3 linked regions of the Homo sapiens genome follow. The protein of the gene in region 3 interacts with the protein of the main gene of each other region in a biochemical or structural test. Each region holds a gene or a part of one and is shown on either strand. Other genes may lie near its edges.

Region 1 (10,632 bases), on a different chromosome or scaffold from region 3:
GGCTCAAGCAATCCTCCCACCACAGCCTCCCTCCCTAGTAGCTGGGACTACAAGCATGAACCACCATGCCCCTGCTGTCAAGGCATTTCTAACATGGAAACCTAGAGTAAGATTATTGGAATCAGATAGATCTGAGTTTGAATCTCACCTAGGTCAGCAGTCAGGGAACCAGGAGAACCTGACTTCTCAAGCTAATTTTCTCACAGCTGAAATGAGAATAAGCTCATCTACCTAGACAAACCCTTAACCTGGGTTTAAGTGATGTATCAGAGGAACAATAAATAATAGTTACAATTACTAGCATATCCCTCCTAACTCAGATTCCCAGTATCAAGCATGGAGTCATGCCTGTAGAGGGGCTTTCTCAACCTCAGCCTTACTGACATTTTGGGCTGGATAATTCTCCCTTGAGGGGCTGTTGTGTACATTGTGGGGTGTTCAGCAGGGTCCCGGGCCTCTACTCTCTAGATGCCAGAAGCAACCCTCTCCTTAATTGTGACAACCAAAAATGGCTCCAGACGTTGCCAAATGTCCCCTGGGGAACAAACTTGCCCCCAGCTGAGAACCACTGATTCAGAGGCACTAACTGACGTACCTCCATTTCTCAGCTGAAAATATCACAGCTGGCCAGGCACGAAGGCTCATGCCTGTAATCCCAGCACTTTGGGAGGCCAAGGCAGGCAGATCGCTTGAGCCCAGGAGCTCGAGACCAGCCTGAGCAATGTAGTGAAACCCCATCTCTACAAACAAACAAATAGCCAGGTGTGGTGGGTGCATGCCTGCAGTCCCAGCCACTCAGGAGGCTGAGGTAGGAGGATCGCTTGAGCCCAGGAGGTGGGTGTTGCAGTGAGCTGAGATCAAGAAAAGAAAAGATCACAGCTGCTTGTAGGGTAGGTACTTCAATGAGCACCACTTAAGAGCCAGGCAGGGTAGTACAAGTTTTACATACATTATCTCATTTAATCCTTACAACCACTTTATGACACAGGTAACATTCTCATTTTCAACTGGGAGAACTGATGTTCTGGGAGGCTAACCTGTCCCTGGTCTCTCAGCTGGGAAGTGCGAGAGCCTGGATTTGAACCCAGGCGGTCTGACTCCAAACCCTTATGACCACTAAGCCCCACTGCTTCCCCAGCCATTCCTGATGTAGGAGCCCAGACGTGGTACCAGGAAGATGAGAGGACCACAGAGTCCCATTCTCAAGAATCATCGTTGATGGTAAAAGCCTGCCTGAACACGCAAGAACTCGCCCTCCCTCCACACTACCACAACCTGCGACCTGCGAACAATCATTAAAAGCAATTCCTCACCGAGGACAATGTGGGAGAAACTCGGGCAACTCAAACCTCCGTGAGGTCCGGAGGCTTCCTTCCTACTTGTCTGAACTAATCCAGTCTCAGCCTTTCAAAAAGGCAGCATCTGAATCAAGCAGAAAAAAGAGTGTTTTTTTTCTAGACTTGAAAAGCTCTCCAGAGAACTGTACACTGCAATCTCCATCTCTCAAGAGATTCTTTCTTCTCTCCCAAGGGCTTTCAAATGGGGAGCATTCAAACAATTACAGAAGCCAACATTTATTGAGCACTCACTATGTGCCAAGCCCTGTGTCATGTGGTTTACTTTCTACTTTTCCAACAACCCTAGAGAGTAGGTATCATTATTATCCCCATTTTCCGAGGGGGAAACCTGGCACAAAGAGGTTCAGCATCTTGCCCCAGAACACCCAGCTCATAAAGTGTAAAGCCTGCCTCTTCACCCAAGCCAACCTTGGGTCCAAAATCTGACTCTATGACACATCAGTAAATTGCTATTTGTGGATCATTTTATGAGCAGTACTACGGTCCTGATGACACTATATATAGCAGTAATTTTGAAACATGGCTTATAATCAGGGCACGATCGCCTTTTAATTGCACCATCATGCCCCTGTCCATAAAGAGAGCCTCGAGTCTTGTCTCATAAAGGAGTAAAGATTATCCTTATTGTAAGAAGCATAACTGTGGCCCATTAAACAGACACACAAATGCCTCCATCCACAGTAATGGTGGGGTTGATACCTTAGCCATGAGAATGTAATTATCTTATGGAACTCATCTTCATGACACTGGAGATGGTAACAGAAAAAGTCTATACACACAGCCAGAAGAACCTCTCAGTCTGTTTAGGGGTGAGAGAGTCTGCAAAGTTCCATGACACACTCAGCATGGGGCTGCCTTAGACACACAGTGGTGACTTGCTCTTTAAAGCATCTCCATTGGCCTTCTTGACTCACTGGTCTCACCTCTTCCTTGCCCTACTGGAACTTCCTGGGAGCACCTCCCAGATAAGCCCTGTGCATTCAAATCCTGACCTAGAGTTGCCTTCTAGGGATTCATGTTGGTGGGGAGCACACAGGACTGAAAGTGGACTGAGGCCAATGACTTGGCTAAGTAAGGGATGCTGTGCACAGACCTATCCCTAACTCGACAAGATCTTCATGGTGACTCTAGTAGCCTCAGCTCTCCTGTTTGGATCAGCCACCTGGTACCCCTTGTTACCGTCATTTCCCAAATCAAAGTAACCTCTGAAAATCAGGACACTCAATTAATTTTAAAGTCAAGGACCTCTTCCATGCAGGGAAACCTAAAATTGGAAATGTGACCTTATCTCTGACTCCAAGGAGACTCCAGTGGACTCTTCCCTCCCCTTCTTGACAAGAAACCAAGGACCCACATGTTCTTACTTGTAAACCCATAATACTAAGACCAACTGAAGCAGGCCAGCAATGTTCACTGACTTTAAGAATATTCCTGGATCAATCGGCTAAGCTCTATTTTAGCCCCAGCCATTGACTGTAAATGTTAAACTCTAACCAACTTTAATGTGATCCATCATCAGTCACCTAAATTTTCAGGGACTTCTATATATCTACATTTTCAGAGGTAACTGACCTCAGAAGAGATTTATTCTAGTTCTAAACTTGACTGTAAACATTTAACAAATACCCAAGCAAGTACTAGGCACCATGCACTGTTTTTGCTACTGGGGATACTGTGGGAGAACAAGACAACATTCCTGCCATCTCAGAGCTTACATTCTAGAGAAAGAGGTAAAATAAGAAATTTACTTGTGGTGAAGCGATCTACATACTATGGAGTAAAATAAAGCTGAGAGGGGGAACAGGGAATGACACGTGGCAGTGGAGTTATGGTTTTCAATAATGTGCTCACAAGAGGCCTCACTGGGCAGGTGACATTTCAGAAAGACTTGAAGCTCAAGAGATAGCAAGCCTGTAAGATGATCAGGTGGGCACTAGCAGGCAGGACAGAGAAAGAGAAGTAATATCCTTAGGACAGGTCACGGGCAGCCTTGGAAGTCACTATAAGGACTTCGGCTTTCACTCAGATACAGAGACTACAGAAATGATTAATAATGGATTATTCCATTATGTAATTACTGAGCCATAAAAAGAGAAGATTTCTATTTAATCATAAAAGACACTGCTCAAATTACATTTTCTAATTTTGCTACATGCCTTCGGAAAAGTTGACATCCAGAACACATTAGACCCTCCACAGGACACTTAACTAGAAAGCAGAGTCAATATGATAGGACCAACCTTGACATCTGTTGAAACAACAAAATGAATTCATAAGAAATACTACATCGATGCCGACCTCCATAGGGGAGAAGTCTAGCAATGCACCAGTGTGTACTAGGGATTTTTCAAGGTTACAGATCTCACATATGAGCTGCAAAAAGACAGGCAGGCATGCAGTAACCTACTTTTTTAGGATGTGAATGTCAGCCCTTAACGAATTTGACAGCCTTTATTCTCAGTGTATACAAAATCAGTATATCCTGTTACTTGTATATACAAACTCAAGGAAAGGGCCACTAACACCAGAGAGTGGTGCTTTGCATTAAATAACCCTCGTTTACAAAGCAACATCCTTCATGTAAACCCTTGTGGTAAGGAGATGTCAGAATGTTTTCTCTTATAAACCACTTAATTCCCCTTGGTGGATATCATCAATTCTGCCATCTAAAACCAGCTGGGTAATGAATGCCAAGAAACACGGTGAGCCAACTGTATGCCATTGCCACAGAAGGTCAAGTTAATCTATTTTTAAATAACACAGCCAATGACAAGGGGTGGCCACTGGAAACGATGGACAAGTGCGTTGTACGTCCTTGCTTCATTTTTTGTAAAACCTGTACAGTGTTCCACAGTGTAACCTAAAAATATCCTTCCAAGAGTGGTCTTTTGGCACCAAGAACAAAAACAGGTTGATTTTTGAAAGTTTAAGTTAAAAAAAAAAAGACATAAATACAAAGTACAATTTAAGAGCGAGAGGGCTAAAATTGGATTGTGTTCTGTAGCAAAGATCTGATTTGCTATTAGCCAAAAAAAAAAGTACACAGGGACAATGCTGCAAGAAAACGGAGGGAAAGAATCATTTTTAGGCATGAGGACACAGGTCCCACATCAACAAAAAAAATCCTCATCATCCTGCCTGCTGAACATCTGAAATTTCACGTTTAGAGGCTCACTTGTTAAACTTCAGTTAGAGTCAACAGGCAGAAATACTTGAATAGGATTCATTAATCCTTGTCAGTCATTTATAGCCCAGTATAAATTATTAGACACAGAAAGCCTGCTAATTGGAAGATCTGATTACGAGAAAGTGAAGACCTCTGGATCCTAAACAAGAAGTAAAAGACAAATCGAGAGAAAGGGAGGAAAGATGTTGCAAGTGGCCTAGTTGCACTTACCTTCCGAAACAATGGAATAGTCATTCAGGCATCCAACCAATTTTAGTGAGCACCTATTATTTGCTGGGTCTTTTTTTTGAGATGAGTCTCACTCTGTCACCCAGGCTGGAGTGCAGTGGCGCGATCTCAGCTCACTGCAACCTCAGCCTCCCGGGTTCAAGCAATTCTCTGCCTCAGCCTCCCTAGTGGCTGGGATTACAGGCGCCCACCACCACGCCCGGCTAATTTTTTTGTTTTTTTTTTTTTTTTAGTAGAGACAGGGTTTCACCATCTTGGCCAGGCTGGTCTTGAACTCCTGACCTTGTGATCCACCCACCTCGGCCTCCCAAAGTGCTGGGATTACAGGCATGAGCCACCACGCCTGGCCCTGCTGGGTCTTTTTTAGACACTGAGAAATACAGCAGTGAACAAGAGAGACAAGCTTCTTGTTTTCATGGAACTTCTATTCTCATGGGAGGGGAAACAGACAATAAAGAAGAAACAGGGCCCGTTGCGGTGGCTCACGCCTACAATCCTAGCACTTCGGGAGGCCAAGGCGGCAGGCAGATTGCCTGAGCTCAAGAGACCAGCCTGGGCAACATGGCGAAACCCCACCTGTACTAAAATACAAAAAATTAGCCAGGCATGGTGGTACATGCCTATAATGCCAGCTACTCGGGAGGCTAAGCATCAGAATTGCTTGAACCCGGGAGGCAAAGGTTGCAGTGAGCCGAGATCGCACCACTGCACTCCAGCCTGGGCAACAGAGCGAAACTCCATCTCAAAAAAAAAAAAAAAAAAAACAACAACAACAACAACAGAAGATAATACGAGATTGTGTCAAGGCTATGAAGGAACAAACAGGGTGAGGGAATGGCACTTTACTCAGGGAGCTATCTTTTGTGTGTGTGTGTGAGATGGGGGTCTCACTCTGTCACCCAGGCTGGAGTGCAGTGGTACAATCTTGGCTCACTGCAACCTCTGCCTCCTGGTCTCAAGCGATTCTCCCACTCTGCCTCCCGAGTAGCTGGGACTACAGAAGTTCGCCACCACGCCCAGCTAGTTTATGTATTTTTTGGTAGAGACTTCACCATGTTGCCCAGGCTGGTCTTAAACTCCTGAGCTCAAGTGATCCACCCACCTTGGCCTCCCAAGGTGCTGGGATTACAGGTGAGCCACCACAAGGGCACTATCTTATATGCAGTCAGTGGTGTGTGGGGGCCAGCTCACATTGGCTTGGGAACAGCAAGTATACGCGTCTCTTCCCAACTCCAGCTATGCTATAAATCAGGGTCTACCCACTACTAGCACTGGTTGTTAAGCATTTTACAGCACACCAGAAGGAGGTCACTGAGGAGAAAGAAGCAAGACCAGAGATTCATGAGAAACCAAACAACTCTGAAAGACAAGGCCCTGTGTTTTAAAATGAGAGTTATTGTCATACATTCCAATGAATCAAAACAATACCAAAACAAAAAACCACACAAAGAACTATATTCAACCATATGTGATCACAATTTCCCTCATTACAGTGAGGGGAAGGGTCTGGTGGTGGTTTGGTTTGGCTTTTAAATTGTATCTCTTTTATTATCTCCACACTGCCACACATACACAAAAAGTAGAGGGATAGTTACAGTTCCTGGGTAATTTGAAAAACCACAAAATTCACCTGCAAAAATATGTAAGCATGACCTGTAATACACCACTTTGGGAAACTACAATCATACCATTTTAAACCTTTGGAGTCTGGGTGATTCATGGAAACAAAGGATTTCACGAGCACAAATAACCTGAAGAGGCTCACCCACTTATTTTTGGCATAGAGAAATGTAGGCTCCAAGAATGTGACTGGCAGAGCTTATTCTAGAACCCAGGTCACCTGTCTCATCTGATGTCATCTTCTCAATTTTGGTCTATACCCTAGTACAGTAGTTCTTAAAACTGAACCCTTGAATCCCTTAATAAGCCCATCAGAATCCCTTGAGGGTTTATTAAAACACCCCATGGTTGTTACCCCACCCCCCAACCCCAACCCCATCCCCCGCAAAGCTTCTGAATTGGTAGAACTAAGGTGGGGCCCAGGAATCTGGATTTCTAACCAGTTCCCAGGTTACTATACTAATGCCACTGGTCTGAGGACCTCACTTGGAGACCTACTGTCCCAGGAATTGGGAGCACAGGCTTTGGAATCAGACAGAGCTGGGTTGCAGCTCTACTGCCACTGTGGTATGACCCTTGGAAAAGTTACCCAAATTCTCTGAACCTCAGCTTCTAACATCTGAGTCCAATTGTAAGGACTGAAAAAGAGAATGCCCACGAAGCATCAGCTTAGCCAAGCACCTATTATATTCTAAGGCAAGATCTTAATACATACTAGCGACATCTTATATCCTGTATCAAAGTTTCCTTAATTACATTTTTCCGAAGCATATACTAGGACGGCTAAAATTCAAAAGACAAACAAAATCAAAGATGGCCAAAGATGTAGAGCAACTGAAACATTAATAACAGCTTTATTCGTAATAGTAAAAAATGGTAAATACTCCAAATGTCCATAAACAAGCAAAAGGACAAACTGGTATGTGTATACAATGGAATATTACTTAGCAATAAAAAAAGAACCAAATGAAGTACACATGCAACAAAACGAAATCTCCAAAATATTTTGTTGAGTAACAAAAGCCAAACACAAAAGAGTACATACTGCATTAGTTCATTTTTATGAAGTTGAAGACAAAATTATTCTATGGTAGATCTATGGTGCAGGGGGAGGGGGGAATTAACTGGACAGGAACATGAGAAAAATTTCTGGGGTGATGAAAATGTTCTCTATCTTCATTTGAGTGATTAACATGAGTGCATACATCGCTTAAAACTCATCAAATTATATATCTAAGATATGCATTTTACTATAGGTAAATGATACCTGAATACACATAATTATATATAACTTTGTAAAGGCATTTTATGACAAAGTACTGTCTTCCCCACTTAAAATGAACCAACTCCAACCTGACAAAGGACTGTCTTCTCCATTTAAAATGAACCAAGTCCAACCTGGCAGATCCATTGAGTTTGATTCCTGCACAATCCAGTCCTGTCACAGACAGTTTTGGTCCATGTATCTTTCCAGAGAACTGCCATGAAGTAGAAAAACAGAATTTTCTCCCACCATGTAGACAGTATCCAGAGTGATCTGTGTCCCTGGAAGTGGCTAACTTGGGATGCAAACAACACAAAAGTAGTATTTTTCTTTACCATATACCAAGTATGAGCCTGCTTGATATGACTTTAAAAGGCACAGTAATGAAGACACATTAAGAGCAATTCTGTCATACAATCTAAATCATATTCTCAACATGGAAGAGGGAGCAGAAAACTGGTGAAATGGTTTCTAGGGCCATCATTACTGGTAATGAAGACGTCAGAAGATCCAACTGTGCCTGTGTAATTATTACATGAAATAGTCACTTTCAGACTGCAATGAATTCCAGGCCATTCAGGTTTCCCAATCAGTATCATATTTCTATCCCATTACAAGTAGATTCACGTACATCCATCCATACATACATATACACACACACACAGAAACATACCCACACACTCGCCCCTGCTGTGAACAATCTGTGCACAAGGGGTGAAGAGAGCTAACACCTGGAGACACTACAGTTTCCTTTCAACTCAGAGGTGTCTGTTTCCAAACCCACTTGATTATCTCACCAAGCCTTCCTAAACTCCATGATGAGAGAGCCCTGGGACATCGCCTCCCAGAAATTTGGCAACTAGTGGAAGGAAGAGACACAAGCCCATGCAGCATCTTGCACACTGCAAACACTGCAAGCCAGCCCCTATTCAGGACCCGTTAGACACTGCGAGGCATCCCCCTAGTTGGGCAGGTACCCTTGCCTGTCCTTCCTCCACCCTTTCTCCAAAATGGTCCTGAACTGAGACCTGCAGCTGCTCCCATCCTATGCCTTCACACAGTATTTTCTCTACAGCCCTATCAAGTCATAATTATCCAGGTTCCTGACACTAAAAACTAGTTTCAGAAATAAATAGCTGCTAAAATCAATTCAAACATAAATAGCTAATCTTTATGGAGCACTTACTATGTACAGGCACTGTTGGGTGCACTTTCCACGTGTTAGCTTATGTAATACCCACAGGAAAGCCAGTGTGAGGAAGACGCATTGTCAGGCCAGGAAAGGTTTTGAACCTCAAGCAAAACCTGGAGAGGTATGCCAGGAATGAGGCACAATCTCTCCCTTTAATGAGCTCACTACCTTGTATGGAAATGAGGACCTAACTCAGAGTTCAGAGTAAGTAAAAAAGCCACAAAGTAGACATTAAAGGAGCCCAAAGGAGGAAGAATTTGTGCATCCTAGCAGGATTCTGGAGGGCTTCTTGGAGGAGGTATCCCAGTGGAGAATGAAGTCATAAATACAAGGAGCTTTCCATAGCTAAGTGTCAGCTCCTCAGCTCCCAAAGCTGCTAAAAGGCCAGGCGAGTCGGCCGCCCCCTCCTCCATTTCATCTGGAGCACGCCTGTTTCCAAGAGAGGACCAGCTAGGCCCAGCCCTTCCTTTGACACATTCCTCCAGCTGCTGCCTGTCCTTATGGAAACACATGGGAACTTTTCACCATGTTCAACTTCACGACTTCCTTCGGTGCTTTCACTGGGGAGAACCTGCGTCATGGCACTTGCTTGCACAAGGGAGCCCTTTAAGGGCCTCAGCTGGTCTCCATTGGGTTGACATGAGGACAGCCCCTTGTCTGTACCAAAGTGAGATGTAAGGGACCTACATCACCAGCAGCCAGCAAATGCATCTTTTAAAAGGCCTCTACAGATTTCTGAGAGAGGAATTTGCTTCCACTCCCTCCTCAGGAATCAGCCCCTTCAGTGCGGTAGGGTCATCCCCCCACTCCTTCCTCCTCCATACTTAAGGCTCTGCAGCAAGGGCTCAAACCCTCGCTTTTGGCAACTGTGTGACCTTGAGCAAGTCACTTAACCAGTATCAATCCCAGTTTCCTTATCTCTAATTTGGGGTATATAAATAAGAACAACTCGTTCTTAGAACTGTTGTGAATCGGAGTGAGATAGTGCAAGTAAAGTATTTTACACAGAGCCGGGCATGTAGTAAACCAACAATGAATAGTAGCTTCATTTTCATCATCAATAATGACGATGATGGTGGTGGTGGGAGGGTAAACTTGGACCCGATTCGAGCTAAAAGCAAGCACCCCTTCCCCCTCTCCCCCTCCCAAGTGTATGGCTGAGCCACACGGTGGAGACACATGCGTCATCCGGCTGAGGGGTGAATGCAGGCTCTTCTGGCGGCGGGCTCAGGAACCGCCAGGCAGTGGTGTCCTAGCTCACCTGGAGGGGTCGCGGGGTGAAGCAGATTTTCTGATGGGGGAGGTCCAATAAACTACAGACCCTCTCTTTCTGTATACCCACTCAGCAGGTATGGAAACTGACTCGTGGCCAAAGAACGCCAGCTGCATCCCTCCCCCAAGGAGCCAGGACAGCGTCCACCATGCCCCTGACTCAGTTCCCCAACTCTCTCTCGGGTGCAGGCGAGACTGCGCTGCACTTAGTGGCGGAGATAACAGGTTGGCCAGCCAGGCCTGAGAAACGTCCCCCCGCTACCTTGCGCAAACCCAGCCCCCTCTTCGAAACGCAGGTGGGCAAACAACCCTCAACCTCGCAACAACTTTGTGTATTTCACCGCCACCACAGGGCGCACGGCCTCAACTTCTCTTCACTGCGCTCCGAGGAGGGAAGCAGGAAATCGAGAATAAGGGGCAGCCCACAGACCACCCTCCTTTTCTCGGGGCGCCCCCCAAAGGCGCGCCCTGCCTTACCTTGTCTGACGGCCTTGAAGGTGACGGCCTCCTT
Region 2 (10,574 bases), on a different chromosome or scaffold from region 3:
AATGCTTTCCAGTTTCATCCATGTTGCTGCAAAAGACATGATTTCATTCTTTTTATGGCTGAAGAATATTCCATTGTGTGTGTATGCATATGTATGTATATATACCACACAAAATGAATCTTTAGACACAGGTTTGCGGGACTGGCACCAGAAGAAATTGGGAAGGAAACACATTTGTAATCAGGTCCTCTTCTGCTCCCTGGAGTGTTCTTTTGCATTTCTTATGCCTTCTCCACCCTATTGATGAGGTCAACCCTGGATCCTTTTTTCCAGAGAGCTTATTCAACAGCCAGTGTTAGGACGGTGGTTCTTAATTTTTAGGTGTACTAGACTTACTTGTGGAGCTCATAAAAATACAGATCCCTTAGGAGGCTGAGGCAGGAGAATTGCTTGAACCCGGGAGGTGGAGGTAGCAGTGAGCCGAGATTGCGCCATTGCACTCCAGCCTGGGCAACAAGAGCGAAACTCCGTCTCAAAAAATAAAAATAAATACAGATCCCTGCAACATGTTCCAGGAGATTCAGGTTCAGTATGTCTTGGGTGGGGCCCAGGAATCAACATTTTTAACACTTTTCATAAGCTTCCAGGTGATTCTGAGGCAGTTATCACTTGGAGAAACGCCATTGTCTTAGGATGGATTCCTCAAAAGCTGATCCTGATAGGGTATTCATGAGCAAGTGATTTAGTAAGGAAGTGCGCCCAGGAGAAACTTGGTAGGTAATGAGAGAAGTAGGAAAGGGAACCAAACAAGGGTCGGATTTCAGGCAAAGTCCTGGGAAGGGTACCTTCAGCCTGATCCCACAGAGGACCTCTGGACTGTAAGTAACCCCTCAGAGTTGTCCCCTCTTCCCCAGTCAAGGCTTTCATATTCTTGCACTATGGGTCATTGGCTAACAGCTAATCAACCTAAACTCCCAGGCACTTCCGCGTGGGCAAAATGATTCCAGTAGCTTGTGGGAAGTCCTTTGGAGTCACAGGTATGAACTTTGGAAGCAAAAATACACTGAAGCTGGAGTGAGGCACACAGAAATGGGAAAGGGGATCCGAGGGAATTTGAATGGAGCACCTACAGTGTCTGCTGAAACCATTTAAAGGATTTCATATTTACTACAGGAGTATCTGGATTTTTAAAAGCAAGGGAGAGAACAACATGCACCCAGTGCAAAGGGAATAATTACTTAAAAGTAGAATTCTGTTCATGCTTGGGGTTTCAGGGTAACTCAGTCTACACATAAGACTCTAGTACCACTGAAATCTGTAATCTTTCAGTGAGTGAACTCTTTAAAATGGTAATTGATGCCTTTCAGTGTCTGGCCCCTGCCTATTTCTCTAACTCCCTCTGGCCTCTTTCTTCCTATAGGCTATGATCTAGCCGTGACCTACTTCTCCAAAACAGCATATTCTTCTTCTAAAAGAGCATATGCTTGCTCACCTCCAAGACTTCAGAAATGTTGTTTTCTCTACCGATAATCAACTGGCCCCTACTCCCTTCACCTGATTAATTTCTATAATTTCTATAGTCTTGTTCTAAACATTTTTTCAACTGGGCCTTCCCCAACCCATAAGTCCTCTCAATATGTGTTCCCCATACTTCCTAAATCCTAACAAACATCACTCTTCAATGTAATTACTTGCCGACAACTTGTTTTCTTTTAGAATGAAGTTCAGAGAGGGCGGGAACCATTTGCAGCTATAGCCCCCATGGCTAACACAGACATTCATTGAATAAATATAAAATAAATAACTTGCAAAATGATATCAGAGTATAAGTCTAATATATGTAGCTTTTTCTGGAGAGAGGAAGGGTGTCTTTCATTTTAGCTTAGAACATCCTGTTTATACCGTGAGGCAATAACTATTCCAGTTGAGAACAGTGTCATTCTTAATTTTATTCATTAATTCAGTAATAATTTATATCCTTAAACAATCATACTATGGAGTGAGGCTGAACTCTAAATTGCCTAAATTAGCCCCGTGCCACACTGACCTCTGTGTGTGGCCCTCATGCTAATATTTCTCTGGAGTGTGTTTTTCCCTTGTATGTCTGTGTCATGCTGAAATGATGTGGGAGCCCGACAACCTGAGAATGTCTAGTGCAGTTGTGAGGAAAGTCCAAGACCTCGAAGTCACTGAAAATTTGCACTGACATCTGAGAATCAAATTTGTTTAGCACCAACTCCATCCTTGTGGGGTTTTAGATGTTTCTGAATTTTTTAAGGCCTATCAATTATATACTAGAGGTATAGCTACATTATGATGAAGACGTAGAACTGTTTTATTGGTAATTTTCCTAGCATTAGAAATCGGCCGGGTACAGTGGCTCAAGCCTGTAATCCCAGCAGTTTGGGAGGCCGAGAAGGGCGGATCACTTGAGGTCAGGAGTTCAAGACCAGCCTGGCCAACATGGTGAAACCCCGCCTATACTAAAAATACAAAAATTAGCTGGGCATGGTGTCAGGTGCCTGTAATCCCAGCTACTTGGGAGGCTGAGGTGGAAGAATCGCTTGAACCCAGGAGGTGGAGGTTACAGTGAGCCAAGATCGTGCCACTGCACTCCAGCCTGCTACCAAAGCCCATTTTCCCCCTACTTCTCCCTTGTCTACCTCCCAAGAGGAGGCAGGAGAAGACAAATATCCGTGTCCCCAGCTTCCCTTGCAGGTAAGTGTTGCTGCCTGTGACTCTGTCCTGGCCCGTGAGATGAGAAAAAGATATTTTCTTTCCCTAATAGATGAGAGACGGAGCAGAAAGGCCTCTCCTGTCCTTACTGCCCTCCTGCTTCCTCCCTTTAATGTCTGAAATTGCAGCAGCCATCTCATAATGATGAGGCAACAAGCCTGAGGATGAGATGCTAACATTACAAGAATGGCAGAGTGGAACGAATAAACCTAGGTCACTGATGACGCACTTGAATAGCTGATCAATGTTAATAACCACACATCTCCTTGCTACATGGAAAAGAGCACCCCGCCCCCTTGCATTTGTTTAAACCACTGTTAGTTGAATATTCAGTTGCTAACATCTGAACACAATCTAATAGATGCACTTACTTTAACATTTTCTTTGTGGAAACGAAAACAGAACCAAATTATTGACACCTGACTCACTAATACATGGGCTTATTTGTTGGAACAGTATTGGATTTTTGGAAGACACCCAGAGAAAAATTAATTTAAAAGGTTTGCTTATTTTAGTCCCCGAAGCAGAGAGGATCTACTTCTAACCATCATACATGGTACAACTTCTGAGGGATGTGTATTGCAGAGAATTTCTATATGACTAAATATTACACTGGGAACTGGGAGATCTAAGTACAGATCAGGAGAAAAAGTCCTCAGCTTTGTGCTGATTGGCAGACCTCAAACCACTCAAAGCTTGTGACCAGGGAGTGCCAAGAGCTGATTAAATTAGGCTTATCGCTGTGGCAAGGGGGCTGCATGTGTTAGTTTAATTAATCAGAGCCCACCTCTCCAGTAAAGATGGTTACAATCTCACCTCAAGTCCAGAGCTGCTACCCCATGGTGGGGGAGAGGGGTGGGATGGCTTTTGGGAGAGCAACCACCACATTCTTCCATCTGTAAGTGAGGGAGTCTCTTTCCAGATCCAAACCAACTGTGATCCTATGAGCAGAGCACTTACTTATTTTTGCAATCGTCTGTCTCTCTTTTTTTCACCTGCACTTTCTTTTCTGTTTTACTTTATGATTGTCCTTTTCTACCTCTGAGCATAGGTCCCTGTAGAAGACAACAAACCCCAAAATGAAGTCGACAAGGCTTGGTATAGCTCAGTCTTGGGCTGGGGAAAAGAAGTGAAGCTGACAAGGTGACTTGAGAGGGTCCCTGTGCACTTCAGGGCAGAATGGAGTGACGCCTTATTCATTAGACATGAGCTGGACATGCCAACTTGTGGTGAGTAACTCTTGGACCCTTAAAGGAGGCAATGTTTCTCAAGTTCTGAAGCCCCCGTCTCTAGAGAATGCACAAGCTCTTTGAGAAAGGAGGAAAACCGTGTGCAATTACACTTGTCCTCTGATCTGCATTTAAAAAAAAAAAAAAGGTTTAGTACCCAAATCCTTAGCAGGCAAATCTCTCAGCCTTTTGAGGGAGTGGTCAAGGGTTTGCACGAAACGTTTCTGAAGAGAAAATAGGCTGTGAGTCTCCACATCACCCCCTCCACTTTGGTATTAATAAATACTTTTTTTAAAAAAAATACTGCACTGAGAAATTTACCAGACGATTTCTGGAAACTGACTTATGAACTAATTGGGCACTTTTGCTGTGCGGAGGAACAAAGACACTATTGGTCTTCAACTGAGGCATATACCTGTCTGATGGCGCTGGCTCATTCCGCACATGCTCAGTTGAACAGAAATCTTCATATTGAATGCAACCTAGCACAGCGGCAACACCCAGAACCTCACTCCCTGGCTGCTCCTGTGCCTGCACTCCCTCTAGTTGCATTCTGTTCCTGACAAGTCTAACATTTATAGGGAGTATAGAGAGCAGAGTAGGTCCTGGGAGTTTGAGGACAATATACAAATGAGCTTAAAGTCACGGTTTGTCCCTGCCTTCCTAGCTTCTCTCTAGGTTGGTCTCTAGTGAGGGTAGGCGCTGGATAGATATTTGTTGAGTTTGGGGCAGAACGTGGGAGAAGCTGTCTCTATAGATGACCGTTTGCTGTCGCACACCTTCCTAGGCAGTTTTTGTTTAGTCCTTTTCTTGGACGACCTCCCCTTACCCCCAGCCCTCATCTTCATTAAGGAATGACAGGGTAGCACTAAAAGCATCCGCTGCCAAGCACGGATTCAGTGACAACCTCTCTCCACCTCTCTTTTAGCTTTCTCATTCATTAGCACCCTTTCCCTGCCTCTTTTCCCAGCAAAAAACTGGGAAAGGCTCCCTGCGATTACAAAAGAAGGAAAGGGGAGCGGCCAGAGTTTCGTGCCTCTTGCCGGACAACGAGCGTGCAGCCGTGGACCTTTTGTCTCCAGCCCCTTTCGCGGCTTGGTCGCGGCTAGGCGCGGAGGCGACGACCCCAACCAGCCCCGCCTCGGCAGCTGCAGCCGGCGCGCCCCACTCAACCCCCCGCGCCCTCTAGAATCCCGGTGCCCGCCCGTTCGCCGTGACGCGGCCGGCGCCCCGCGCATGCGCCGCTCGGCCCGCTCCCCTTTCCCTGGGCCACCGCCTCCCGACCGGTTGGAGTGGGCGGAGCCTGTGGTTCTGGAAGCCGCGCCGCCGACGGGGGAGGAGGGCGTGTCTGCGCGAGGCGGGTGAGCGGGGCTGGCGAGCCGGTCGGCTGCTGAGGCGTAGGGGCGGAGCAGAAGGCGGCGGCCGCGGCTCCCGCCCGCACAGAGCGCCGGTCCCGCGAAGCCCCCTCCCACTCCCGGGCGGGCGGTGGCGGCTGCGGGAGGAGGAGAAAGAGGAGGGAGCGTCTCTGCCGCCGCCTCCTGGTCCCCAGCGCCGATCCGCCGCCGCCGCCACCTCCCTCCGCGGCGATCCTCGCTCCATGGTCCTGCCGCGGCCCCCTCTGTAGCCCGAGCTGCTCCGCGACGCGACGGAGCCGGCCTCGGACAGAGGGAGCGGTCGCGGCCTCGCGGCCCGCGCGGGCTGACGAGCGGAGAGCGCGACGCCGCGCGGTCCCCGAGGATCCGCACGCCGGGCAGCGCGGCCCGAGCAGCGCGAGAAGCAGCGGGCGGGCGGGCGGCGCCGGGCCCGGGCCGCCCTCGCTCCCGCGCCCCGGCCCCGCCGCCCGCGCCGGGGCGGTCGCCTGCAGAGGAAGGCGCCGCAGTCTCTGGGCCTCGCGGCCCCACTCGAGCGTCCTCGGCACCGAGGGCTCGCGGGTCCTGAGGGGAGGAGGCGATCCCGGGGCTGGGCACTGAGCTCTTGGGCGCCCCCACCCCCGTTTTCGAAGCCCTCCACGCTGCGGCCGCTATCCCCTCCGGACCATGGCCGACGACGACGTGCTGTTCGAGGATGTGTACGAGCTGTGCGAGGTGATCGGAAAGTGAGTCTCCACGCGAGGGAGCGGGAGTGTGGAAAAATGCATTTCAGTGATGCCCCGGTCTTCCCGCACCCGCTCGGGGCCTGCCCCCTGCCCTCCCTCCTTCCCCTCTTCCCCTCTCGTCCTTCTCATCCTGGAGTATTTATAGACGTGTACCTGGAGCTCCTGCCAGGCGGGGGCCTGGGGGTTCTCAGCGGTCCATTGAGGCCACCGAGCCGAGGTTGGCCACCCCGTAAGGCGTGGGGCCGGCTGCCTGCATTTTATCTGACGGTTGCACAGGGACGTGGCACAGCCGATTTTATAGTTGCTTCAGTTGGGGTTATTGTTACCTTGCATGTACCATAGACCATTTTTGAAACAGAGCAGCTTGCATTTCCTTTGCTTGTGTGGTGAGAGAGTCCAGGGTTTTAATTGTGGGGTGTGTGTCTATTGTGCGGGATATTAGACAGATGCCTTTGTGTACACCCCATGCTCGGATTGGAGGGGGTCATTTAAGACGGGGTGCTTTCAGTTTCAGCAAATTCCCTCCTGGTGTACACGAACGTGGAAAGAGTTGGGGGCATTCGAATTTTTAATGCCTTGTTATGCAATGACTGTTCAATCAGTGCTCGAGACTCCCCTCGACTGTTGTTGGGATGGTGGTTAGCGTGGTAGAGCCGTCTGCTTTGAGTCACCGGGCTGGTCTAGAATATAGAACTGACAGTCCAAATGCTCATCCTTTCATCTGTGTTGTATAATTACGCTGGGGAAAAGCAGGGAATCAGATTAATCACAGTGCTGATTGAGAATTAAATCTGCAGTTCCTCATCTAATTGTCCATTCCTTAAATCTATTTTGAATAGTTTCCTTTTCATTCTTGTCAAACAGTACTCCAAGTGCACAATCCTGCTAATTTGCTTGTGAAGGAAATGCTGGCAATCTGAAGTTGATTTCCTAACACAGCGTGTATTCTGCGGCTTTAGAAGTTGAGGAGATAAGATTTAAGAGCAAATTTTTGCTTAATAAGGATCGCTAGAGCTAACATTGAAATATCTTACCTCTTTTTTTTTTTTTTTTTTTTTTTGGAAGCGGTGCTTTATTGTCTATTTTAAGGTCCACAGTTGGGAAATGAAACCAAGACCTTAAAGCAGTTGGCCCTATCTCTTTTAAGTTGTCTGCAGTACTCAATTTCAATTTGAGTGCTAATTTGTTTCCTTTTCTTTCCATATTGAGGTATTACAGTGTTGCCTCACATGGTGAAATTGTGGGTAGAGCTTGCTACACACTTTACTCAGACCCAATTGATGTGAGGACATGTTACTCCTTGCCCTATTGTTACATGACCAGCCAGACTTAAAAGGAAAGTATCCAAATGTGTCCTGTTAAAGTGCTTGTGGAAGTGTTCTAGAACAGCACTGTCCAAAAGATATATTATGAGCCACATTTGTAATTTAAAATTTTCTAGTAGCCACATTTAATAAAAACATACAGGTGCAATTAATTTTAATAAAATATTTTATTTAACCCTGTAGATCCAAACTTAACATTTCAACATGTAATCAATATGAAAAAATATTAATGAAATATTTTACATCTTTTATGCTAAGTCTTTGAAATCCCAATGTGTATTTTACACTAATAGCACATCTCAATTCTGACACTAAGCTACATTTCTGATGAAAATCAGAAATACTTAATCTGTATTTAGGTTTCATAAAATTTGCGTTTGCAAAAGTATATTCACATACCCAAGTTGTTCCCAATATACATAAAAGTTTTCCAATAACCGAATCAAGTACCTTTTTCTAAATTTAAATTTTAATTAATTAAAATTAAATACAATTCAAAATTCAGTTTCCCAGTCGGACCAGCCACGTTTCAGGTGCCCAGTAGCCACATGTGAATAGCACAGTTCTAGAGAGAAAAATGCATCAAAAATCTCCTTGGTTTCCTCATTCTTAGGAGCACCCAGTGAAGATAAATTAGGTGTTTCCCAAAAGCCTCCAAATGACTGTATGTGTGGGTGAATGATGTTTGTTGCATCTTAGTTATAGCTGATGTAAATGAACTAACAAAGTCATAATTGGAAAATGTGAGATTAAAATGTTAATTATATTGTGAAGATGTAAAATAGCCATCTCTGAATCAGTTTTGGTAACTAGTTCTGATTCCTTAAAGTCTGGAAGGGTGATGATGTGATCTCTTTGGATATCAAAAAGAAATGGTCAGAATCACATTAACACAGTCCATATTCTGCTGATTTGTAATTGATAGAATATTTTTCAGGAAACACCCCTGGGAGAAAAAAATTCATCTTTTCTGACTGTTTCAGAGCTGCATAAAGAGGGGCAGCAAGCTAATTTTGAGGTGATAGGTACTCTATGGCTACCTTAACTACTATGAACTGTGAAATCTCATTCATATCCTACAAAATCTGACTTGGTCAGTGCCAATTATAAAATGCCATTATGTGAAATAATGAATTCAAGCTAGCCTTATTGTTAAAGAATGTAATAATAGTGTTCCTCAATCTGAGTAAAGGTTGAAGGTTTCTCTAGTAAATTGTCTTAGTATATATTGATCTGGAAATTGAAATTAGCTTGAGATTTTCTTGCAGGGACCTTGACAGCATACATTTTTAACTTATAATTTGTTCACCTCTGAATTTGAACAGAAAGCCCTTGAAGATATTCACATGTACTGAAAACCTTTTTATTGATTTCTATCCAAGTTCTATGGAATTTTGATTTTCTTTTTTACCAAATTAGTATCACAAGTTGTTTTTCACCACTAGATCTTAATAGGTTTTAATTTTTACTAAGGTACTTTAAAATAGATTTCACTTTTCAAGACTAATTGACTACCCACTCACTCCTCTACCTACGCAACCACCTACTCACTCACCCACTGTGTACTTGGCCTTACTTGATGGCATAAATGAAAGTTCTCGTTTAATTTAGACCCTTCAGTGTGTTTTTTTCCCCCTTGGTTGAGAAAGATAACTTACAGAGTTAATGAGGTTTTGAAATATAAGATCATTATTTGGAATATGTTTTCTTTCCAGTGGTTGCAGCCTTTACCCTTGTTAAAGCTGTCTTTGAGGGAACATGTGCCCAATTTGTTACAAATATTGGAAGGATGCCGTTTCCCTTTTTAAAAATTAAAACTCTTTTCCCTGTGTTTCTCATTTTTGAAAATCTTGCAGAAACTCCTTTGAGTGACTGTTGGTTCTATAACATTTTCTATGTAACTATCTTTTAAATGACTGAAACAAATCTCCAATAATAAGACCTTATCATAGTCCCAAAACTTCTTGTCTTAGCAAATGTAGCGATTACTGGAAAGGAAGGGCGTTATGCAAATGAGGTTAATGACTAATTTTTATGTCATGATCATTTACTGTATCTTTTACAATTATAAGTAAGTGTACAACCGGTAATACTACATGAAGGAAATTTAAGACAATTCATCGAAATTAAAACATAGAAAAATGCCTACTTTCTTGGTACAGCAGTGTGTATGAAAGGGAATAACAAAATACATACCATTTTTACCTTGTGTTAGGTGAATACTTGCCCTGTTTAGTAGCCTGTAGCTTCAGACTTTCCTGCTCTGGTAGGACATACACTAAAATTGGAATGATGCAGCATGACCCTTGCTTAAGGATGACGTGCAACTTTGTGAGGCATGCTGTATTTGCTTACTCCTCGAGAGCACTTTTATTTAATTACAGTTACTTATTTATGGATCTCTCTAGTTCACTAATAAGGAGCTTCCTGAGGGCAGGGAATGTTTCTTACACATCTTTCTCCATTAACACAGTGCGTGCAATGTAACTGCCTTTCATTAGCTGTGGAATGAATTGAGTAGTTTTAATAAAATCTCATTAAAAGGCAAAAAAGCATGTTTGTCAACCTCAGAGCAATTATTGTCCGAAGAGCCTGCATTAGTTTAAAGTAGTGGTTCTCCACCTGGCTGCATATTAGAATCATCCGGGGAGCTTTTAAAAAAGATCAACGCCAGAGCCCTGTGTCAAAGCAGTGAAGTCCGAGTTTCTGGGACTGGGTCCTGGTCACTGACATTTTTTTAAAGCTCTCTGTGTGATTCTAATATGCAGCTATAATGAGGAATCATTGGCTTAAAACTTAGATTATGTATGTAATATTTTGGGACTGGCTTTTCAGAGGCTTACAATTCTTACAAAGTAGAATAAATTCTTTTTGGAAGGTATTGAAGCTAAATGGCTAAAACATGGATTTTATCTTCTATGCACTTGTGTTTCTCAGCCTTATTGTGTAAAAATTTAGTTTTAGCTTGTGTTTGGCTTTGATTTCTTGGGCCTTTTAAGATCCACATTGATTTATGACACTCATCTAATGCTAACATGGCGATTGTCTGACGTTTGGAACAACACAGAACAAGGATTGCTTCAATAACAGTTGATGATGGTTTTCCACTATAATGGCTTGATTTAATATGAAGAAATTTATCAGTTTAGTATGGATTGTGTTTGTACATACACTCTATTAAAAGAGTATGGTTAAGTTGCTTGTATGCTTTAAATTACATACTTGTGATTCCAGTAATGCTGTTAGCTG
Region 3 (10,632 bases):
CCATGGGGCTGTACCAAAAACATGCTCATATTCTCTATGCTTGCCTACGCTGCCTCTCCCTTCACCCCACAACCAGTGAAGCACTTCCTCAAAACCTCTGGAGTTCTAAGGGGGTGTTAGAAAACCATTAGTTTAGTTTAAACCTAAACCAGTGCAGGGATTCCTTGTATTGGGTCCCTGAAAGATGCTTGCCCAGAATCTTCTTACATACTTATAGGGCTGCACTATGTCTCAGGAGTGCTTATTCTGTCTTTGGGAAGATCTGACTATTAGAAAGTATTTCCCAATACTAAACTCACATCTCCTTCTTTCCTACCTTCATCTTTTGGTTCAAATTCTACCTCCTGAAGTTGCATGGCATAAGTCTGTGCTATCCCCTTTTCTCTGACTAATCAAATACTATTCATCTGCCAGCATTCATCTTAAGTCTTCTTCTGTGTTACACCCGCAACAATCCCTCCCAGAGTGATTTCTGTGGCCTCTGGGTTCTTCAACTATACTTAATGCACCACTCCTCGGCAGTTATGCTTTACCATCTTAGTGATTTTTGGCATTCTTTATGCCTTTCTAACAAGAACCTAATCTTTTAATGGCTGGATGGTGTCAGTCTTTTATAAATGTCTACCTCCATACCCCTTCACCACATTGCTGCTGAGTAGATAAAAGTGTGTGCACAGGTCCTCCATAAACTGGCCCTAACCACAACAAGTTTACTTACTTTCTACCACATTTCCTCACAAAAATCCTCCACTCTAATCATATCCAGCTACCAAATTATACTCTGTGTCTTCCTCCTTTGCTAATACTTTCTTGTTTCCTATCCCAACCTCTCCCTATCTAGAGCAGGGAGTATTAGCCTCAGGCATAAGAACTCTAAACACTACACAAAATGTACATTTTTGTGTGTGGGAGAGAATGTTTCACAGCTTTCATACAACCCTCAAAGGTCCCATGACTCCACAAAAAATTAAAATCCACTATTATAAATTTTTTCCCATCTCTGCTTAGCCAAATCTTCCCTATTCTTAAAAGCCCAGCTCATGCCCCTGGATCCAGGGAACCTTCCATATGGGGGAGATTTCCTAAGCTCTGAAAATATATATATATATATGAATATATGTCTCCATAGATATTGATATATAAGGAGATATATATATATATCTAAATTGATATATATACATCATTTTTTCTACCATTAATCTCTGTGGTTTATTATGTACCTTTTAGAAACTTTAAAATTAGTATCTTCATTGTGACTTAAATCTTTTGTATTTAATGTTTCATGACTGTAAACTTTACAGCATCTTTTTGTTATATGTACTGCCTTCCACAGAGCAGGTACTCAACAAATACTACTGTGGACACGAATGAAGACGGTGAATCACCTTCATCTCAGTGTGTGTAGAAACTCAGTTTTAAAGATGTATATCACAGCTGTGACAGTGTCATTAGACCTGGGCAAAATGCCACAATTAGCTGCCACCTTACCTCTGCTTTACGAATATTTTCTCTAGCTTCATCTATTTTCTGTTCTAGCTCTGCTCGGCTTTGTTCTGATACAGCAGCTCCATGACACTCCAGATCATTTAGAACCTATTAAAGAAAATGGGACAATAATGATGACTGTTTTTTACTTTTCATCTTCCTTAAGTGATTAAAGTATTTACATAATTCAAAGGGCTTTAGTGACTAGTAGCCATAATTTTTTTTCATTTATTTATTTTTTGAACATTTTGAAATAATTATAGACTTACTAGTAACAAACTTACTACAGACAGTCCCTTCAGTGGGGAAGCCAGGACCAGCCACTATCTGATTGCCGCCACATGAGAGACCCCAAGGGAAACTGCTAAGCTGAGACCATCCAATACTCAGATTAGTGAGAGATAATGTAAAAACCCTCTTGTTCTATGGCATTAAGTTTGAGGTGGTTTGTTAAGCAACATTACATAAGTGGAACACTGAATTTGAGACACCTGTGAGATAGTGAAAAGAAGATGTCAAAACAGGCAAGAGATTATATGGATACACAGTAGTAGCAAGGCCCAATGTTGAAGATGTTAATTTATGATTTGGTGGTAAAGTAAAACCATGGAAGTGACTGAGAATGCCTATATGAGGGTAAAGAATAAGAAAACAAGATAGCCAAGTATAGGAATCTGAGAAACTGAATATTTCATTGTGGGATGGAGAAAGAGGAACCCATGAAAAAATCTAGGTATGGCCAGAAAGGCAGAAGGAAAGCCAGGACAATGTTGAATCGTGGATGACTAGAGAAGATAACATTTTAAGACATGGAATTGTTAATTGTGATGAAATTGTTGACAGATTAAGAAAAATGAGAAATCAAAGTGTCCACTTGGAAGCTAGCAACACAGACATCATTGGCGATTTTGGTAAGCTTAGACAGGGGAAGGAAAGGACAGGAAAGCTCAAATGTAATGGGCTAAAAAGTAAGTGGGAGGTGAGATTCTATAGATAATAAGCATAGGCAATTCTTTTAAGAAGCAGGATGTGAAGGCAAAGAATGAGACGGATATAGGTATCAATAAATGAAACAGAAAAAAAGTACTATACTCCAAATAATTTCTTTGTGCTTAGAGTTTAGTCTTCGAGATATATTTTCTTTCTTTCTTTCTTTCTTTTTTTTTTTTGGAGACAGGGTCTTTCTCTGTCACCCAGTCTGGAGTTCAGAGGCATGATCTTACCTCAATGTAACCTCCACCTCCCGGGCTCAAGCAATTCTCCCCAACCTTAGCCTCCCGAATAGGTGGGAAGATAGGTGTGCGCCCCCATGCCCGACTAATTTTTGAATTTTTTGTAGACACCGGGTTTTTTGCCATGTTGCTCAGGCTGGTCTCAAACTCCTGGTTCAAGCAATCCACTTGCCTCAGCCTCCCAAAGTTCTGGGATTACAGGCGTGAGCCACTGCGCCCAGCCAAACATATATTTTCATGAAATCTATAATTGTGTCTTTCTTTTTTCTTTTTATTGAGACAGAGTCTCGCTGTCGCCCAGGTTGGAGTGCAGTGGCGTGATCTCAGCTCACTGCAAGCTCCGCCTCCCAGGTTCATGCCATTCTCCTGCCTCAACCTCCCGAGTAGCTGGGACTACAGGTGCCCGCCACCACACTCGGCTAATTTTTTGTATTTTTAGTAGAGATGGGGTTTCACCGTAACACATGTTAGCCAGGATGGTCTCGATCTCCTGACCTTGTGATCCACCCACCTCGGCCTCCCAAAGTGCTGGGATTACAGGCGTGAGCCACCGCGCCCGGCTATAATTATGTCTTTTAAAAAATATGTCTTGAGGGATGAAAACTTATATTAATTCAACATATGTCTCTTCCCCTGCCCATAATACACTATCACAATTTTCTTTGTTAATTTTATGGTAAACAGGTAAATTAATGTATTGCTGATGGAGGGCTTAAGGAAATTCCAACATGAGTAGATAGCTGACAGCACACTGCTGAGTGTTGAGAAAGTACAGAAAAAACACATATAATGCTTGAGCAAAGGAGTTTGAGACCAGCCTGGGAAACATGGCAAGACCCTATCTCTACAAAAAATCTAAAAAAATTTAGCCAGGCATAGTGGCATGTGCCTGTGGTCCCAGCTACTTGGGAGGCTGAAGTGGGAGAACTGCTTCAGCCCAGGAGGTTGAAGCTGCAGTAAGCCATGTTCACACCACTGCCCTTCAACCTGGGTGACAGAGCAAGCCTCTTGTCTCAAATAAAACAAAACAACACATATAGGATATTTTTCACATTAATAAAACTCAGTTCCTTAAACTGTTTGACATTTGGCTTAAGGTGAATGTAACTAGGACTTTCTCTTACACTTACCCGTTGTTGGTGAACAATGTTTTTATGCTCACGTGCCACACGTGTGGCCCATTTTCGAGCTTCCTTATTTAGACTGTGCTCCTCTGTGGTCCCAGTTTCTGATTCTAACTGTCGGCTCTACAATACAAGAGAGAACAGAGATAAAAATATTGCTATCCTTATTGTAACCACTACTGCTTTGTAGATGGATCAGAAGGCCTTCACTTAATCAGCACTCAAAACATGAGGCACGCTCCACTACTGCTGGAAGCAATGTCTTAACGTCACAGAAAGTTACCAGAAGAGTAAGATCAGCATAAAACCATTAAAGACCATAAGCTTTTTGTCTTACACTGCTGAACACAAAAGCATCATCTATAATACTGCAGACTTATCTTTTTGGGTGTGATGGACTTATCTTTCCGAGTGGGAAGGAAGCTAGCTAAGGTAAGCAAAGAAGAAAATGTATTCATGCCAACCTACTATGGTGATAAAATCATTGCATAAATAAAAATGGAAACAACTTAATAGTTTAAATGTGAGTAAAGAATCATTAAAGAGAAGTAAGAACAAAACAATATAATAACAGCAACACAATCTTGCACCCCTCCCCCTGCCCCAAGGCAGACGGAACTCTTTAGAGGTCCACCATCAACTTGCCACCAAACCTCAAAAGCCAGCTTTTGCTCTTTCTCCAGGCTTCATATGAAAGATAAGGGTGCTAGATCAAATGATCACCAAGGGTTTCTTCTAGCTCTAAAATGCTATGATTCTGATTTACAAAGAACAAACCACAAAATCTAAATAAAAATAGTAATAGCTAACTTCTATTGTGCAAGGTACTATGGAAAGTGCTTCATATAACTTTTTTTTTTTTTAACAACCTGATGATGTGGGTCCCACATCATTTTATAGAAAAGAAAACAGAGGCTCAGAGAGGTTAATTTTTCCTGGATGTCCTAGATGTTAAATGTTACAACCTTAATTGACCGATTCCAGAATCAGAGCTATTAAACACAAAACTATTTTAATTCTCTCTAAATTCTTAAAGACCCAAGAAAAACAAACTTTATTGAGATAATTAGGAATTTTTTTTAAAATATAAATTACCCAAAGAGGCTTTTAATATAGAAAGCAGCAAAATTGTAGAATGAAAAGAATTTTAGAAATTCTGATCACGGCTCACTGCAGCCTCAACCTCCGGGCTCAAGTGACTCTCCCACTTCAGCCTCCTGAGTAGCTGGAACTACAGGTGTGTGTCACCATACTCAGCTCATTTTTTTTTTTCCTTCTAGAGATAAGGTCTCACTATGTTGCCCAGGCAACATAGGAGTTCAACATCTTGAACTCCTTGGCTCAAGTAATCCTCCCACCCTGGTCTTCCAAAGTGTTCAAATTAGAGGGATGAGCCAGTACACCTGGCCTAGTAATTCTTTTGCAAGGTCTCATAGCTCAAAATTGATAGAGTAAGTAGAAATTGATAAACTGGATTTTAAAAATTAATATTTTTGTTGGGGGAATTGTGATGAGGCAGGGTTTAAAAATTTTTGTTCTATACAGACATTTCAGCTAGATTATAACAATGACAAATAAATTGAAATAGAGCAAAATAATCAATATTCAAACTTAACCATCTTTACATTCATATTTTACATTCTAATTCATTTTTGGGGTTATCAGAAGTTTGGGAATGAACTTTACTATTATATTTTGCTTTGCAAATGAATCTGGGCATTCAAACTTACATCTGTTCTCAAAGTCAGGAATATTAAAGTGTTAAACTCTGGACACAGATACAAATGAAATATACAAAAGTCAGAGGAATGTGATCTGTAAAAGTAGAAAGATAAATTCTGAAGAGTCCAAGAATAGGTTTTTGAGTCAGATAGACTTAGTTTGAATCCATTGTATGCCATTTTATGGCACTACTAGCTTTATGATCTTGGGCATGTTAATTATCTGAGTCGTAGCTACATCTGAAAACTAGTGAAAATGTCACCTATCTCCATAGGGTTGGTAGGTTATAATGAGGTCATATTTTAAACATTCTGGTATAGGATCTACATAATATCTTAGGCATCCAGTAATGGTAACTGTTAATGTTAAAGACCCAATTGAAAATTACTTGAAACAAAAATTTTCTTATTACTGTTCATAAGAAAATCCAGATAATTCCTAGGTTCTTAATAGCCTAAACAATGAATCCAAAATGAAGATTGAAGATATATTGAAAGATTAAGGCAGATCTCAAAGAGAATGAATTTGTAGGGAGTAGCTAGATGAGAAAGGAGGCAACTGATAGAGACATTTAATTTTTGTTACTGAGCAGCATTTTAGGAATAGGTAAAGGGGTTTAAATTGTGTGCTGGCTGCAGATGGGCCATAACCCAATTTGCCTTACAGAATTTATACCTTCTTATTGAGTATTCACTGTGCTCAGGATAGAGCTTTTCCCTTATTTTTTATGTGTCTACTAAGACTTGGGAGTCCAATGATCAGGACAGGTAACTAATGCCACTGATTGGAAGATGTGGCTTTGAGATCCTTTGGGTAGGGAATGACACAAAACTAAAACTCAAATTAATTTATCCTTTTCATGAATTCTGAAATCAAGCCATGGAATACATGTGGAAGCTCCTGAGACACAGGTCTTGACAACTGAGAATTTCATACAAGGTGAATACAGCCCAGGCTATTAAACAATACACAGAGAAATGTTCCAATACCACCTTCACTATCAAAGATCAATATAAATCAGGATCTAGTATAGATAATTATGTTTTTGTGTTTTTGTTTGTTTTGTTTTTTGTTTTTTGAGACAGAGTCTCACTCTGTTGGCCAGGCTGGAGTGCAGTGGCATGATCTCAGCTCAGTGCAACCTCCACCTCCTGGGTTCAAGTGATCCTCCTGCCTCAGCCTCCCAGGTAGCTGGGACTACAGGCATGTGCCACCATGCCCAACTAATTTTTTGTATTTTTAGTAGAGACGGGGTTTCACCATGTTGGCCAGGATGGTCTCGATCTCTTGACCTCGTGATCCACCCGCCTCGGCCTCCCAAAGTGCTTGGATTACAGGTGTGAGCCACCGTGCGTGGCTGGTAATTTTTTTTTTAAGACAGTGATATTAGCAGTGGTCGATTCTAACAAAGAAACCGTAATGACTGCTTCTTTTTAAAATGCTGGCAAATTTATTTTTATTTTTAATTTTTTGAGACAGAGTTTCACTCTGTCACCCAGACTGGAGTGCAGTGGCATGATTTTAGCTCACTGCAACCTCTGCCTCTCGGGTTCAAGAGATTCTCATTCCTCAGCCTCCGGAGTAACTGGGATTACAGGGCATGTACCACCATGCCCAGTTAACTTTTTGTATTTTTAGTAGAGATGGGGGTTTTGCTATGTTGGCCAGGCTGGTCTCGAACTCCTGTCCTCAAGTGATCCACCTGTTCTTGGCCTCCCAAAGTGCTGGGATTACAAGCATGAGCCTCCACGCCTGGCCTAGATCATTCTTTTAACATTTTTCTTTTTGGAAGACAGGTTCTCACTCTATTGCCCAGGCTGGAGTGCGGTGGTGCAATCATGGCTCACTGCAGCCTTGACCTCCCAAGCTCAAGCAATCCTCCCACCTCAGCATCCCAAGTAGCTGAGACCACAGCATATGCCATCACACGCAGATAATTTTTTTGATTTTTAGTAGAGATGAGATCTCACTATGTTGCCTAGGCCATCTCAAACTCCTGGCCTCAAATGATCCTCCTGCCTTGACCTCCCAAAGTGCTGGGATTAGAGGCATGAGCCACTATGCCCAGCCCAATATTTTTCCTTTATCTTTTAAAAATGTATTTGATACAAAAATTAGCTAGGCGTGGTGGCGCCGGAGGTTGCAGTGAGCCAAGATCGTGGCACTGCACTCCAGCCTAGGCTACAGAGGGAGACTCTGTCTCCAAAAAAAAAAAAAACTCTAGTCCCTTTAGAATAAAATATTACAATAAAGTCTTTTCAACATTCATAAAGTTATTAAATAACTTTGAAGAACTAAATTAAGGAAATCAGCATTCCAATATTCTTGATATATTAGTCTTTAAGTCATCTTAACTATTTTGTCCTTAGATGCTCTCTCAAGATATGATTTTGTTTTATTTTAAGGTTAATACAAAGGCATAGAAGGCTCAGATATCTGAGCAGAGTGAGCAGCGATAGAAAAGCTGACTTCGCAGAAGAAAACAATCAGTTTTTTAACTCTGTAACTAAAATATAACCATTTCAAGGAGAGAAAAAGAGATGGTCATGTATGATGAATGAAAATCACTAACAGTAAAATACTAGCATTCCAAACCATTTCAAAAAAAGATAGTGTTGGGGTTGTTAGGCCAATGGCATAACATTCTAGTTAACCCTCATTCAGGGAATTTGTACTACTTACATTTTTCAGTTTACTGAGAGACAAGAAATATACTGGGGCTGGGCACAGTAGCTCACACTTACAATCCCAGTGTTCTGGTAGGCCAAGGCAGAAAAACTGCTTGAGGCCAGGAGTTTGAGACCAGCCTGGGCAACATAGCTAGACCCCAGCTCTTAAAAAAAATTAGCACATACCTGTAGTCCTATCTATGGGAGGCTGAGGCAGGAGGATTGTTTGAGCCCAAGAGATCAAGGCTGCCAGGAGCTATGATTGTGCCCTCCAGCCTGGGTGACAGAGCTTCTCAAAAAATATATATTAATATATTGAGTTAAATATTGGATCCATCTTATTCTTTATGAAGTATATTAATATATGGTTAATTATTTCAATAAAGTTATTAATTATTTATCCTCAAAAGGACTTCTTCAAGTAAAAAGCATCTGGATCTCTGTATTCCAACTACACGTTTGTACAGGTTCACAATCCCACAATTCTGAAATTCAAAATGCTCTGAAAAAGAATAAGTATTTTTTGGTAAGTTTGGAGCCAAAACTCACTTGAGCCAAAATGTGATTTGAACTAATAAGAGGTTATTTATAGTTTTTTCTTTCATATATACATATATGAATGAAAATATTCATATGTTTCACTGCAAAAATACTATGTTTGGTCACAGGTGCTTCCCCATACATTGCTCAGGGTTTTATGCAATGTATGGTATATGGGTCACTTTTCTAAAATCTGGAAAATTCTGAATTTTGACATGTATTTGGCCCAAGGCTTTTGGTAAGAGACTGTAGACTTTTAAGTCACATATTTCAAATATGCCACACACCTTGAAGAGGAGTGGAACAGTGCCTCTTAAGAGACATAATTTAACTTATTCTGACTATGCTAGGATAGCAGAACCTTCACTTGGAAAGAAGTGGGAACTCATCTAGATAATTGTTGAGTGTGCCTGGCCTCTCAGGAGAGCACACTGGAGAAGAACTGGTGTGGACTGAGCCTTGGGACAATTCTGGAAAACTCTGGACACCTGGGGAAAAGGAATATACCCATTAAGGCTGGGGTGAAGAAATGATGAGAACTCTGAAAGGAGCTATTCTTTTGTCTTGGATTAAGAGTACCAAAGGCAAACCTTAGCAAAAAATATGTCCCTGAGTAATGACATGAAAGTAAAACAAAAATGGCATAAAAACCTTGCGTCTAACACTTTTGAGAACATACCTAGAGGCATGGTTAGATGGAACAGCCTTATAAAGAGTATGCCTTTATTTTGGTAGCTCTCACAGAGATCTTGCTTTAAGAGCTATAATCACAAGCTAGATAGGGGAACTTTCAGGCTCCTATTGTCAGCACATAACTAATGCGTCTATGCAAAGATCTAGTTACTCTGGATGGTTAGACAAGGAACCAGATCAGGAGAAAGGTGACTAAACCAGTAGAGGGCCTATCACATAGATAGTGGACTTTTTACAAAAAGCCTTTTGTGAAACGCTGAAGAAATTAGGACAACCACTACGAACACTTAACTGTCAGTATTGCTAATTCTAAAACGCAACACTCATGTCTTTAGTCAAAGCCTCTCATTTTTGGATACTGTGCCAAGCATGTGTAAGAGGATGGTACCTATTTACTCAACAGGAGGACATCCCACAAATTCTATCACAGCCTTTTTCACATTTATGAGACAACGCTATATGCAATACAAAATTTCTACAAGCAGAAAGAGCCACCCATAACAAAGAGAATTTTCAGGTACATTTCCTGCACAGTATATTAACCCCATGTAGACTTTTATAGACAAGGGAAATTTTTGCCAAATATTTTTTTAATAGATGCATAAATCACTCCCCTTATGTAAAACTTTAATGTGTAAAAATCCTCAACTACAGCAAGTGGACATTTTACTTACTATAATTTTTAATCTATAGAAGGCAGAATTAAATATCAGAAATAGCATCTAGAATAACAGGGAAAGATCATACATCAGAAATTTAGTGTCAGCTTTTTGCTGTCATGATCTGTGAAGATCTTGTTATTTGCTGTTCAAAGAAGGTAAAGGGGAAAGTGTATTCTCATTCCGACTGGGAAACCTGAGGAAGTTTCCGTGTTTTTCCTGCCTGTATAGATCATACTTATCTAAGTTTTGTGGACATGCATGTTTCCCATATTATTTCCCATCCCAGCTTCGCTTTGTCCTTTTTCACAGGATGTGAGAAAATGCCCCTAATGGCACTCATCACTAGTTCTGGTAATGAAAGGATAGGTCACTGAGATGTACATAGGGCAGAGATGTTGAAAAGTACAAGTCATGTACTTAAAATTATTCCAAACAGATTGCCTTTCAGATGTACAAACTGCCAAGAAGGCCGTTGATGAGATCCTCTTTGTGGAATAAGTAGAAC

What was found.
Region 1: the proteins of FCHSD2 (region 3) and MAGI1 form a complex in vitro, tested with the Homo sapiens proteins (2 studies listed by BioGRID and IntAct, with this or other methods).
Region 2: the proteins of FCHSD2 (region 3) and CASK form a complex in vitro, tested with the Homo sapiens proteins (2 studies listed by BioGRID and IntAct, with this or other methods).

The regions. Positions count from the first base shown.
Region 1 is NC_000003.12:66,027,398-66,038,029, forward strand, and holds part of MAGI1 (membrane-associated guanylate kinase, WW and PDZ domain-containing protein 1), read right to left. Parts: coding exon 10,599-10,632; intron 1-10,598. UniProt on the Homo sapiens protein: Plays a role in coupling actin fibers to cell junctions in endothelial cells, via its interaction with AMOTL2 and CDH5. May regulate acid-induced ASIC3 currents by modulating its expression at the cell surface.
Region 2 is NC_000023.11:41,918,356-41,928,929, reverse strand, and holds the start of CASK (peripheral plasma membrane protein CASK), read left to right. Parts: upstream 1-5,375; 5' UTR 5,376-5,941; coding exon 5,942-6,000; intron 6,001-10,574. UniProt on the Homo sapiens protein: Multidomain scaffolding Mg(2+)-independent protein kinase that catalyzes the phosphotransfer from ATP to proteins such as NRXN1, and plays a role in synaptic transmembrane protein anchoring and ion channel trafficking.
Region 3 is NC_000011.10:72,885,982-72,896,613, forward strand, and holds part of FCHSD2 (F-BAR and double SH3 domains protein 2), read right to left. Parts: intron 3,965-10,632; coding exon 3,848-3,964; intron 1,594-3,847; coding exon 1,489-1,593; intron 1-1,488. UniProt on the Homo sapiens protein: Adapter protein that plays a role in endocytosis via clathrin-coated pits. Contributes to the internalization of cell surface receptors, such as integrin ITGB1 and transferrin receptor.